Homo sapiens: one gene and its partners. Changing the gene in region 1 together with any one later gene gives a genetic interaction. Each region holds a gene or a part of one and is shown on either strand. Other genes may lie near its edges.

Region 1 (3,500 bases):
ATCCTCTCTTCCAAAGATGTCCGACGGCTTTACGATAATGGCTTCCGGAAATGCATCTCTCACTACTTTCTCTCCAACAGCCTAAACAATAACCAAACAAACCTGTTTTGAGTTTAGAGACAAGTGAATAAAGCATCCATTCTTTCCACTATTAAGACATGACTTGTATTTCAAAGGCGATATTTTCCTCCAGATAAAGGTAATCATGTAATTCATAAAACTCAGTTACACAGAACTTTTAAAAAATATAATCCACAAAAATGTCCTGCACCTTACAGATTGGGTTGGGTCTCTTCCAATTTTTTTATTTTAAGGGAAGCTTACATTGAAGAAGGAGAAAAATCAAAGTAGAATTTCTTCAGCCTCCATTTTTCCTTCTATTTACAGATTCTCTGGTTTGTGTCAACCATCTAGCAGCCTGTTAGAAAAAGGACAGTATGGTGGCAGCAGGCTGCAATAATGGAAGTGTCACCAGTACCTACATATCCAAAGGAGGTTGGGGATAGAGTCACTAATCCTCCTAATCTCAATTGCTGTACCATCCTTACTTGTTATCATCTACTAGCCTCCTAGGCAAGTCTTCTTGTTCGATGAAGATATCAGCACCTAATTCAGTCTTCCTTTCTACTTCCACCACCACTGGAGGTGACATGATGTCCAAGTGGGCTTGGACTTCTCAGGTTCTTGAGCTGCTCAACTCCAACGACCTCCTCTTCCTTCCACCTCTACCACTCTTAACTTGGTTACACCACCTACTGTATCAACATCTGGAATTGCTCTTCTTCTGAGGTATTAAATGAAGACATCCTGCTCTTGGATGTCCATTTCCTACAATTTCCAGCCTGCTTGTTCTTTGTTCATCTGCTCCTGGGATACCTGTTTCTCAACCTTCTCAAGAACTCTAGTGCACTGATTCTGCTTCCCCTGTATCAACTCTTCCGACTGTTCCTGTCCTTCCCTCTGAATTCCAGATTAGGTTCCATAGACCATCTTCTCATCACTCTCTTGCCAATATTGTAAACTACCTTGTCCCTTTGTCCTTTACTCTAGCCACCAGGCAAAATTCTAATCCTAGAAGAACTCCATTGGCCTCCCTTGGGCCATGCACTCCCACTGTCTTGAGCAGCTGGCAGGAAAATAAATCAATAAAAACCATGAATTGGTACCACTATAAATTCATGCCTCCAATTTTAACCAGGCCCTCAACATTTCCCAAAAACCGTGTTTTCCTCTAATTAACTTACTTTCCCATGAGACAATTTGAAACATTTTCTACTGTATTCAAATTTCAGACATCCCTTTCTTTTCTCTTCCTTCCAGTAAATGACTCTGCCTTCTAATAAAAGAGAAAATGTAAGACAGTAGAGGAAAAACCACCTCAAGTTCTCACCACTAAATCTACAAACCCCGGTATATAAAGCACAATTTTCTCCTCCTCTCTTACCTGATGGGAGGAACAGTGCCACTTTCAATGCTTTAGAGCTCATGTCCTTTCACTTTTTCAGGAACCTGTCCAATTTACTCTCTCTTCCACATCCTCAGCCTCACTCTTTTTACCAGCATCTCCCTACCAGCATGTAAACAATGTAGATCCTCTACCTTAAAAAAAAACATACCAACTCCACATCCCCCTCCAGCTTCTATCCTCTCAGTCTTTCATCTTCCTCTTGCCAGTCAAGCTACCTGAAAATGTACCTACCCTTACCATTCCCACTTCCTCAGTTCCAACTCACTCTTCACGCACCCGCATTCTGGATTCTGCTCCAACCACTGCACTCAATCTATTCTTGATAAGATCACCAATGACCTCCATGTCAGTAGATCCAAGGAGACTTTACAGTTAACATTTGCTTGACTTCTCAATGGCATTCATAAGTATTCACTTCCTCCTGTGAGACTGTCTGGCCATGGCTTCCCTAGCACTGTACTCTCCTGGTTTCCCTTCCGCCTTATCATGTCCTGCTTAGTCTTTCTGTTTGATTGGTTTGGGTTTCTGCAGGTGCCTCCTTCTCTACCAGATTACTAACCATTGGTATGTTCTGGGCCCAATCTGAAACTACCTTCTCAATCTTCAGCCATCTTATCCTCTCTCATCACTTAAATTAACAACAAATGCTGGTAACTCCCACATTTCTGTCTCCAACCCAGACCTCTCTTCTGACCTCCAGGATCAGAAACCCTATATACCAGTTACTTGGAAGATTGACACACATCTGAAATGCACCTGAAACGTGAGTCCAAAACTCAATCATCTTCCATTCTCTCAAGTAAAATAGTGCTCCTCAATCTTTGCTGCACTCAGAATTACCTAGACAGAGTTAAAAAATACTGGTGCTGAAGTTGCAACCCCAGAAATTGTTTTAATTGGTCTGGAGCGCAGCCTAGGCATCAGAATTTTTAAAAGCTCCCTCAGTGGTTTTAATGTGCAACTAAGGCTAAGACTCACTGCCCTACAGCCTAGTCCCTCCCAAGCATTTCCCATCTTATTCAACAGTACTATCATCTACCCAGTGGCTTCAGCCAGAGGGCTGGACATCTTTGACTCTTCTCTCTTCCTCACCATTGACACCTCCCATTCCCTTCCAGTCATGAAATTCTGATGATTTTATGAATGTTTGGGCAGAGGCAGGCACAAGCATTCTCTCTCTTATTTTCTCTCTATTTACTACCGTAGCCACAGTGCTTAACACAATATGTGACACACAGTAGGTGCTTAATGAATAGTTTATCCAGTAAACTAATGTGGTGAGTCAAAAACTTGGAACCATTATCAAGGAACTCTCTTGTCCTTATCAGTATGACTCCAAACAGGCTTCCATATGGCAGAATCCAAATGTTAAGCGCACGGCCAGACACTGATATCCCTTCTGCGTCCCTGATAATGAACACGTTTCACTTAGGCTACAGACTGACTCCAAACTACAGTGGTCAGTCTCTAGGTATGGCATTTCTGGGAGTAAAAGGAGCATAAGCACTGTGTGAATAGGCATCTTCCCTGGCAAATATTAATCCCTGTCATTCTGAGCCTTCACATTGCCCCTTTAAGAGTGGCACAAAACCACTGCAGTGCAAGGGGTGAGAAAGAAAGATGGTCCTTTAACCATGGTAGATGACACAGGTATGATTCCTTTGGCAGAAATCTGTGATGGTTTCTGTATAATTCAATGATGCCCCAAAGAAACTTTAAGTATCTGAATGCCAACAGTAACATGGTCTAGCCAACTCCGAAGCCCCATAGCACAGTTCCCTGCAAACAGAAGGCAATCAATCAAAACGTCAAAACATCACACACACCCCTAGTTCTGGATGCAGGGAATCAGAAAACCTTTTAATTCTACATATGTCTGTGATAAACCCTTCTCACTGAAATCATGTTTCAAATGGCCCAAGAAACTCTGGCTCTGTGAACCACTTCCCAGATCAATTTGTTACTTACCTTATTTCTCAAATATCTAGAAGAGCTTTTAATATTCGCATTCAGATGTGAAACATGAATGAAT
Region 2 (3,500 bases), on another chromosome or scaffold:
CACCCAGGCTGGAGTGCAGTAGAGTGAGCATAGCTCACTGCAGCCTGGAAATGCTGAGCTCCAGGGATCCTCATGCCTTAGCTTCCTGAGCAAGTGGGACCATAGGCATGCACCGCCATGCCTGGCTAACTTTAAAAATGTTTTCAGAGACAGGGTATTGCTCTGTGTTGCCCAGGCTGGTCTTAAACTCCTGGCCTCAATTGATCCTCCTGCCTCAGCCTCTGAAAGTGCTGAGGTTATAGGCATGAGCCACTGCACCCAGCTTGATATTATGTTTTAAAAGTACAGGGTCAACAGTTGAGGAAAGAGCACTGAGTATATACTACCTGGCTAGGTCTCAGGTTTGCCAGTTGCTAAATATTTTGGCATTTATACAGTCTCTTTGAGGGCTTGGCTTTCCTATTTTTAAAGTGGTAATCTACCTCACAGAATTTTTCTAAACTTAATAAAGAGCTGTTTATGAAAGACTGTATGCACTGTATAATTGTAAGATATTCAATTATAAGATTTTATAAGAATATATAATTCAATAATTGATGTAATTTGATATAATTATAAGATATTCAACTACATTGAAGATACTACTGCTGTCTTCAAGTGCAGTTGTTAACTATACTTCTCTGTATTTTGCTGTCATTTATTAGCAGGCAGATATAATACGTAATACATAATATAATACATAATATATTATATAATACATAATATAATATAATACGTAATACATATATAATACATAATACATTCAGTATACTTAATGTGTATAATACAGTTCTGAGTATGTGTTAGAAACCAGGATGCTGCTTATTTGATTCTATAATAACTCACCTATGACATGCCACACATACATGTAACTGAGCTGGGTTTTGAGTAGTTAGTTGGAGAGTTTTTTAATTGAGAAGTTTAATTCAGAAGTTTGTTTTTGTTGCCTCTGATTTAACATTTTATATTTCTTTTGAAAAATTTCCAACAGAGCTCAAATGATACTTTTCCCACAGCAATGCACATTGCTGCTGCAATAGAAGTTCATGAAGTACTGTTACCAGGACTACAGAAGTTACATGATGCTCTTGATGCAAAATCCAAAGAGTTTGCACAGATCATCAAGATTGGACGTACTCATACTCAGGATGCTGTTCCACTTACTCTTGGGCAGGTATAGGAGTTTGACTAATTTGATTCAATTTAGAGCTTGGTACAAATGGCCAATGTGTCATCCTTGAAATCTGACTAGCTTAAAAGGCCAAATTTGTAACCGGAAACTTCAGTGACAGAGGTTGTTCTGTTCAACCAATCAGTAATTTTCATTGACATCCACTTAGAAGAAAAGCAGAGTATACTGGCTATAAGTCAGATTCAGTCAGACTGCTCGGGTTCAAATCTTAGCTTTGCTGTGTACAAGCTATGGGACCATAGGAAAGTCATTTAGCCTTTCTGTGCCTCAGTTTTCTGAGCTACAAAATGAGGAAAATAATTTCCCTTTCATAGGATAGTTGTGAAGCTCTAGTAAGTTGATTTATGTAGAGTGCTTAGAAGCATGCCTGGCACACAGTAAGTACCCATTCATGTTAGCTACCATCATCACCACCGTCATCGCTGTCATCTCCATCAGTATCATCATGGTTTTTCTTTTGTCTTTCTTACCTAAATTAGTAGGTTATTTAAAATTTAATCTCAAAGTGATTAAATAAGGTAGATCTTTTTAAGATGGATCTGGCCGCATGTGAAGGAGATACTACTCTCTTCTCCAAGATATTAGAAAGTATTTTCATGTTTCTTTTTCAATGCCTTAAGGAATATCTAATAGTATACATTGTGAAGGAAATGTAAGGAAATACAGGGAATGACTTTTGTCTTAGTAAACTCACACTCCAATTGGGGTAGCTTAATTTCCTTATGGAAGGAATGAGGAAAACTTGAAATGAGTAATTGAAAAACAAATGATGGGACTAAATTGAACTCACTGGATTGAGTTGCTTCTTAAGGCTGTGTCTCATTTCTCTTTGCATCATTAGTACTTAGGACCATGCATAATTTCTAAGGAGGAACAGTATGTATGTTTTGAAACTTTTGAATATTTCTCAAGTTTCTAATTTTAACCTTTTTTTGGTGTTGAAAACTACAATACTAAATACCATTTGGGCCATGACTCAGCCTCCTGTGTAAAATCATCATTCTTCCTGTTAAGACAGAAAATTACATTTTTCTGTTTGACTTTATCAGAAGCATTTATACTTGCTTTTATTGGGATTGTCTTTTGAGTTCGTGCATTGTTCCCTGTCAAAGTGTATTTTATAAGTGAATCTATCTAGTGTGTTTGTGTGTGTGTGTATACATACAGTCATGTGTTGCTTAGCAATGGGGGTATGTTCTGAAAAATGCATCCTTAGGCAATTTCATAGTTATGTGAACATCACAGAGTATACTCACACAAACCTAGATGGTATAGCCTTCTATACACCTAGGCTATATGGCATAGCCTTTTCCTCCTAGGCTACAAATCTGTGCAGCATGTTACTGCATTGGATACAATAGGCAATCGTAACACAATGGTAAGTATTTGTGTATCTAAACATATCTAAATGTAGAAAAGGTACAGTAAAAATACGGTTTTATAATCTTAGGGTCCCACTGTTTATGTGATCTTTCGTTGGCTGAAACATCATTATGTGGTGCGTGACTGTATATGAGTGATGTTATATCAGATGCATCAGGTCTACCTATAATGAGTTATATCTTTTGAAATGTTTTCTTTAGAACAGTATGGCATCCTGTCACTTATGGTTTTTTAGTGTTTTCAGGCAGGAAAAAAGGATAGATTTAGTGTAACCATGTATCTTGGTTTGTCCAGTTAACTCCCAGTGTATGCCTTTTGTTTCTGCATGACTATTAATAGAGCCCTTTCTGTGTTCAAAACATAAATTCTGTGGTTGCTTTAATTAAGGCATGTCAAAATTTGGAACCAGTGTTGACATTGGCACATTGATGCTATGATCTGACTCTACCGTTACCTCCTATTCTTTTTGGAAGGTCCTTCAATGCAAACTGTTACCTTCCTGTGCTATTCAGTGAGTCATTAGCTTCCCAAGTCTCTGTAGAATGTCTTCATATTTCCTGGTAGGTTTATACACTGAAATTGTATGGAGAATATTTCTATGTTTGCATTTTTTTGGGGGAGATGAGTTACTATTTTTTCTTACACCAAAGTTGTCTGAGGCATCCCAAAAAATAAGAAATCACTTCAGTTTCTTTAGTAGACTGCAAGTAAACCAATAATTTAGTGTAGTAAAGTTGTTCTTTTTAAAGTGTATTTCCTGTGCTGTTTTTCTTTGCTTCCTATTAAAAGACTAGATTATAATAAATAGGCTGCATGTTATCAGTGGCATTGTCGTACCTTATGGTTCTATAAACCCTCATCCTTCCCTATACTTTGCTCATCATAAGATTTGAAGTAGTATAAATAAAACTTGATTAGCTTGTAATTTAGTATTCTGAAAGGTATT
Region 3 (3,500 bases), on another chromosome or scaffold:
TGTTGCATTCGCTTTATCATCATCAACGCCAACATACAATGGCTCCTTTTTCAGAGAAATCCTTGCCAGGTCTTCAACTTTTCGAGTTTGGGTGGCAGAAAAGAGCATAGTCTGTCTACGTGCTGAAACAGATACATATAAAAATAACCCCAATCTTTTAGGGAATCTTTACAATTGCCTCACAACTACAAATATTCTAGGTAGAGATATCAGAAATGGGAGATATGATGTTTCTACAGAATCTACAAATATTACAAAAGGTAAAAAGGGTATATCATGAAACACTAGGTCTATAAATTTGAGGACTTAGATGAAATGGACAAACTCCTTTGAAGACAAACAACTGAAGAAAATAGGAAAACTTTAAATAGCCTTATATCTACTAAAGAAATTTTAGTTATAACCTTCATGTAAAGAAAATTCCAGGCCCAAATGGATTCCATTGGTGAATTCTACTGAACATTTAAGAAAAAAACATCAATTATTCACAAACTCTCCAATAAATTAAAAAGAGGGCTTACATGTCAACTCATTCTTCGAAGTCAGTCATTACACTATACAAAAACCTGACATGACATGACAAGAAAACTATGGACCAATACAATTCGTGAGCACATATACAAAATTTGAAATAGAATTTTAGTAAAGTGAATTCAGCAATATATAAAAAGGATAATGGCTCATGTTTATTCTAGAAATGGATCAGGTTTATTCTAGAAATGCAGGTTGGTTCAACATTTGAAAAATCAACCAATACAATTCACTATGTTAACTAAAGAAAAAACATGATTATTTCAGCAGACAGAAAAAAAACATTTGACCATCTATTTCTGATTAAAAATCCTCAGCAAACTAGGAACAGAAGGGATCTTCCTCAATCTGATAAAAGGCATCTATATAAAACCTGCAGCTAACTTCATATGTAGTTAATGGTAAAAGACTGAATGCTTTCCCCTAAGATCAGAACCAAGATAAGGATGTCTGCTCTCACCACTTCTATTCAGCACCATACTGGAGGTTCTGGCCAGGGCAATCAGGCAGGAAAAAAAAATTAAATAAAGAGGTGAAACTGTCTTTATCTGCACATGATTGCCTATATAGAAAATCCAAAAGGCTACAGTCATCTGGAAAGTCATACTGAATAATCATTCGGTACAGGATTAACTGTCTTGCTAGATACAAGATCAATATAAAATTCAACTGTGTGTGCATATATATGTGTGTATATGTGTGTGTGTATATATGTATATATTAAAGCAACGAGCAATTGGAACTTGAAATTTTAATGAAACACTCAGAGATAAATCTGACAAAAGATGTGAATAAACCTGTATCCCGAACCCCCCTAAATATGATAGAGAAAATATCGAATACATGGAGATATACCTTATTATGGGTTACATGACTCAATACTGTCTTCCTCCAATAATCTCTATTCAATAAAATCTCAGTCAAGATCTGAGACTTTTTTGGAGGGAAGGGGGAGAAACTGACAAACCAATTCTAAAATTTATATAGAAAAGCAAAGGACAAGAATACCACAACTTTAAAAGAGAACAAACTTGGGGCTAACATTACCTGATGGTCAAGACTTAATAGGAGGAACTGGAACTTTCATACACTGCTCATAGGAATGTTAAATGGTACAGCCGCTTTGGAAAACATCTGGCAGTTTTTTAAAAAGTTAAACATACACTAAACATATACCAACTAGGACACTCCTAGGTTTACTTAAGAGAAAAGGAGATATATGCCTCTACAAAGAGTTGTAGATGACTGTTCACAGCAACTTTATTTCCAGAAAATGCAACCTAATCTAGCAGCAGAAAACAGATCAATACTCACCTGGGGACAAGGTATACGTGTAAGGAGGGGTGGGAGGGAGAAATTGAAAAGGGGCAGGAGGAAACCTTTGACTGTGATGGACATGTTCATTTTCTTGATTGCAGCGATGATGTCACAGTGGTAAACAAATCAAAGAACATCAAATTGTACATTATAAATGGGTAGATATAATTATACTTTGACAAAGCTTTTAAAAATAAATTATATAATGAAGGAAACCATGGTCTTAGTTATAACCAGTTCATAATGTTGCAAGTACTATAACCAAGGTATGTACAAGTAAGGCAAAAAATCTGCGGCTTCTTGGGGGATGTTAGATGAGGTAAGAATGGGCAAGAGGTGGAGGACAGGACCTATGTGAAGACTGCTTAACGTGCCTTATAACTTCTAAAACAGCAAAACTATTATATCAAGTTATAATACATTTGATGCTTGTATTCCAAATTACCTTTCGGGTTAATTGGCACAACTACCTCACTTGGCTATGGTAAAGTTCTGGCATTAGTACAGTTTTTCTATAGGAACAACTCTTATCTACCTCCAACAGATACTTTGCAAACCAAATGCAGATGCTACCTACTTACTTGGCAAAAGTTTAATAATTTGCTTTAATTCCTCTTCAAACCCCACATCCAAGATACGATCAGCTTCATCAATAACCAGACACTGCAGGTTTTTATACATAAATCCTGGGGTATTCTAACAAAACAAAGGACAAAGAACAACCATTAGTTGTCAGTTTATGTTTCATACAAGACAATGAGACAAGCACTACATCTCTTACCTGCATATGGTCCAGCAGACGGCCTGGTGTGGCCACAATGATGTTGATCCCATTACCAAGTTTCTGTGCTTCAGCAGATCTGTTACTGCCACCCATTATCAAGCCATAGGTATGCACGTGGTGAGTCATCAGCTCCTTAAGAACACCAAAGGTTTGCATGGCTAGTTCTCTAGTAGGTGAGAGAATAAGGACTCCTGTTCCTAAAAATGATATATGGTAGAAGTCTAAATGTGGCTGTCACCACTGAGTCCGTAACAGCTACAATAAACCTCTAGTGAAATAATGGCAGAAACAAGCAGATGAACGCTTACCATTCCTGGGCATGAACCTTAACTTAACAATGAGTTCAACTGCAGGGATGAGAAAAGCCAGGGTTTTACCACTGCCTGTTTTTGCAGCTGCTAGAAGATCCCTAAATATTAAAAAGGGAAAGGAGAAAGACATTTAGCCTACTCATTTACGACGTACTACATACACACACCTTAGGCACTACGGCTAGAACATGAACAAGAAACGTCTACAGTGCTGAAATTGATCACCTGGGTTATATACTGAAATCATAAGTCAGAACTGTGCTACAACAGAAGCAGAACACCTTTCGAACACTTTCCTTCAAACATCAGTAATTAACTTAAAGCCTTTAATGTATGCTGGATACATGACCCAACATATAGTACAAAATCAACAGAATATACTGGTATGTTCTTTATCATCTACTAGTTCTAAAAATAGATGCCAATATCTAAGCTTCAATGTTAATCATACCTGCCTTCCAGAAGTGGTCTGATACTTTTATGCTGAATTTCAGTCATGTTTGTAAAACCCATTTCTTTTATTGCCTTCAGAGTGTTTTCATTGACAAGATTACATA

What was found.
Region 2: changes in NDUFA9 (region 1) and FH together harm fitness less than expected from each alone (positive genetic interaction), as found in Homo sapiens cells (one large-scale study listed by BioGRID).
Region 3: changes in NDUFA9 (region 1) and DDX18 together harm fitness more than expected from each alone (negative genetic interaction), as found in Homo sapiens cells (one large-scale study listed by BioGRID).

What each region holds. Positions count from the first base shown.
Region 1 is NC_000012.12:4,659,114-4,662,613, reverse strand, and holds part of NDUFA9 (NADH dehydrogenase [ubiquinone] 1 alpha subcomplex subunit 9, mitochondrial precursor), read right to left. Parts: coding exon 3,437-3,500; intron 82-3,436; coding exon 1-81. UniProt on the Homo sapiens protein: Accessory subunit of the mitochondrial membrane respiratory chain NADH dehydrogenase (Complex I), that is believed not to be involved in catalysis. Required for proper complex I assembly.
Region 2 is NC_000001.11:241,506,256-241,509,755, reverse strand, and holds part of FH (fumarate hydratase, mitochondrial), read left to right. Parts: intron 1-970; coding exon 971-1,153; intron 1,154-3,500. UniProt on the Homo sapiens protein: Catalyzes the reversible stereospecific interconversion of fumarate to L-malate. Experiments in other species have demonstrated that specific isoforms of this protein act in defined pathways and favor one direction over the other.
Region 3 is NC_000002.12:117,821,191-117,824,690, reverse strand, and holds part of DDX18 (ATP-dependent RNA helicase DDX18), read right to left. Parts: coding exon 3,395-3,500; intron 3,042-3,394; coding exon 2,941-3,041; intron 2,830-2,940; coding exon 2,630-2,829; intron 2,545-2,629; coding exon 2,430-2,544; intron 123-2,429; coding exon 1-122. UniProt on the Homo sapiens protein: ATP-dependent RNA helicase that plays a role in the regulation of R-loop homeostasis in both endogenous R-loop-prone regions and at sites of DNA damage.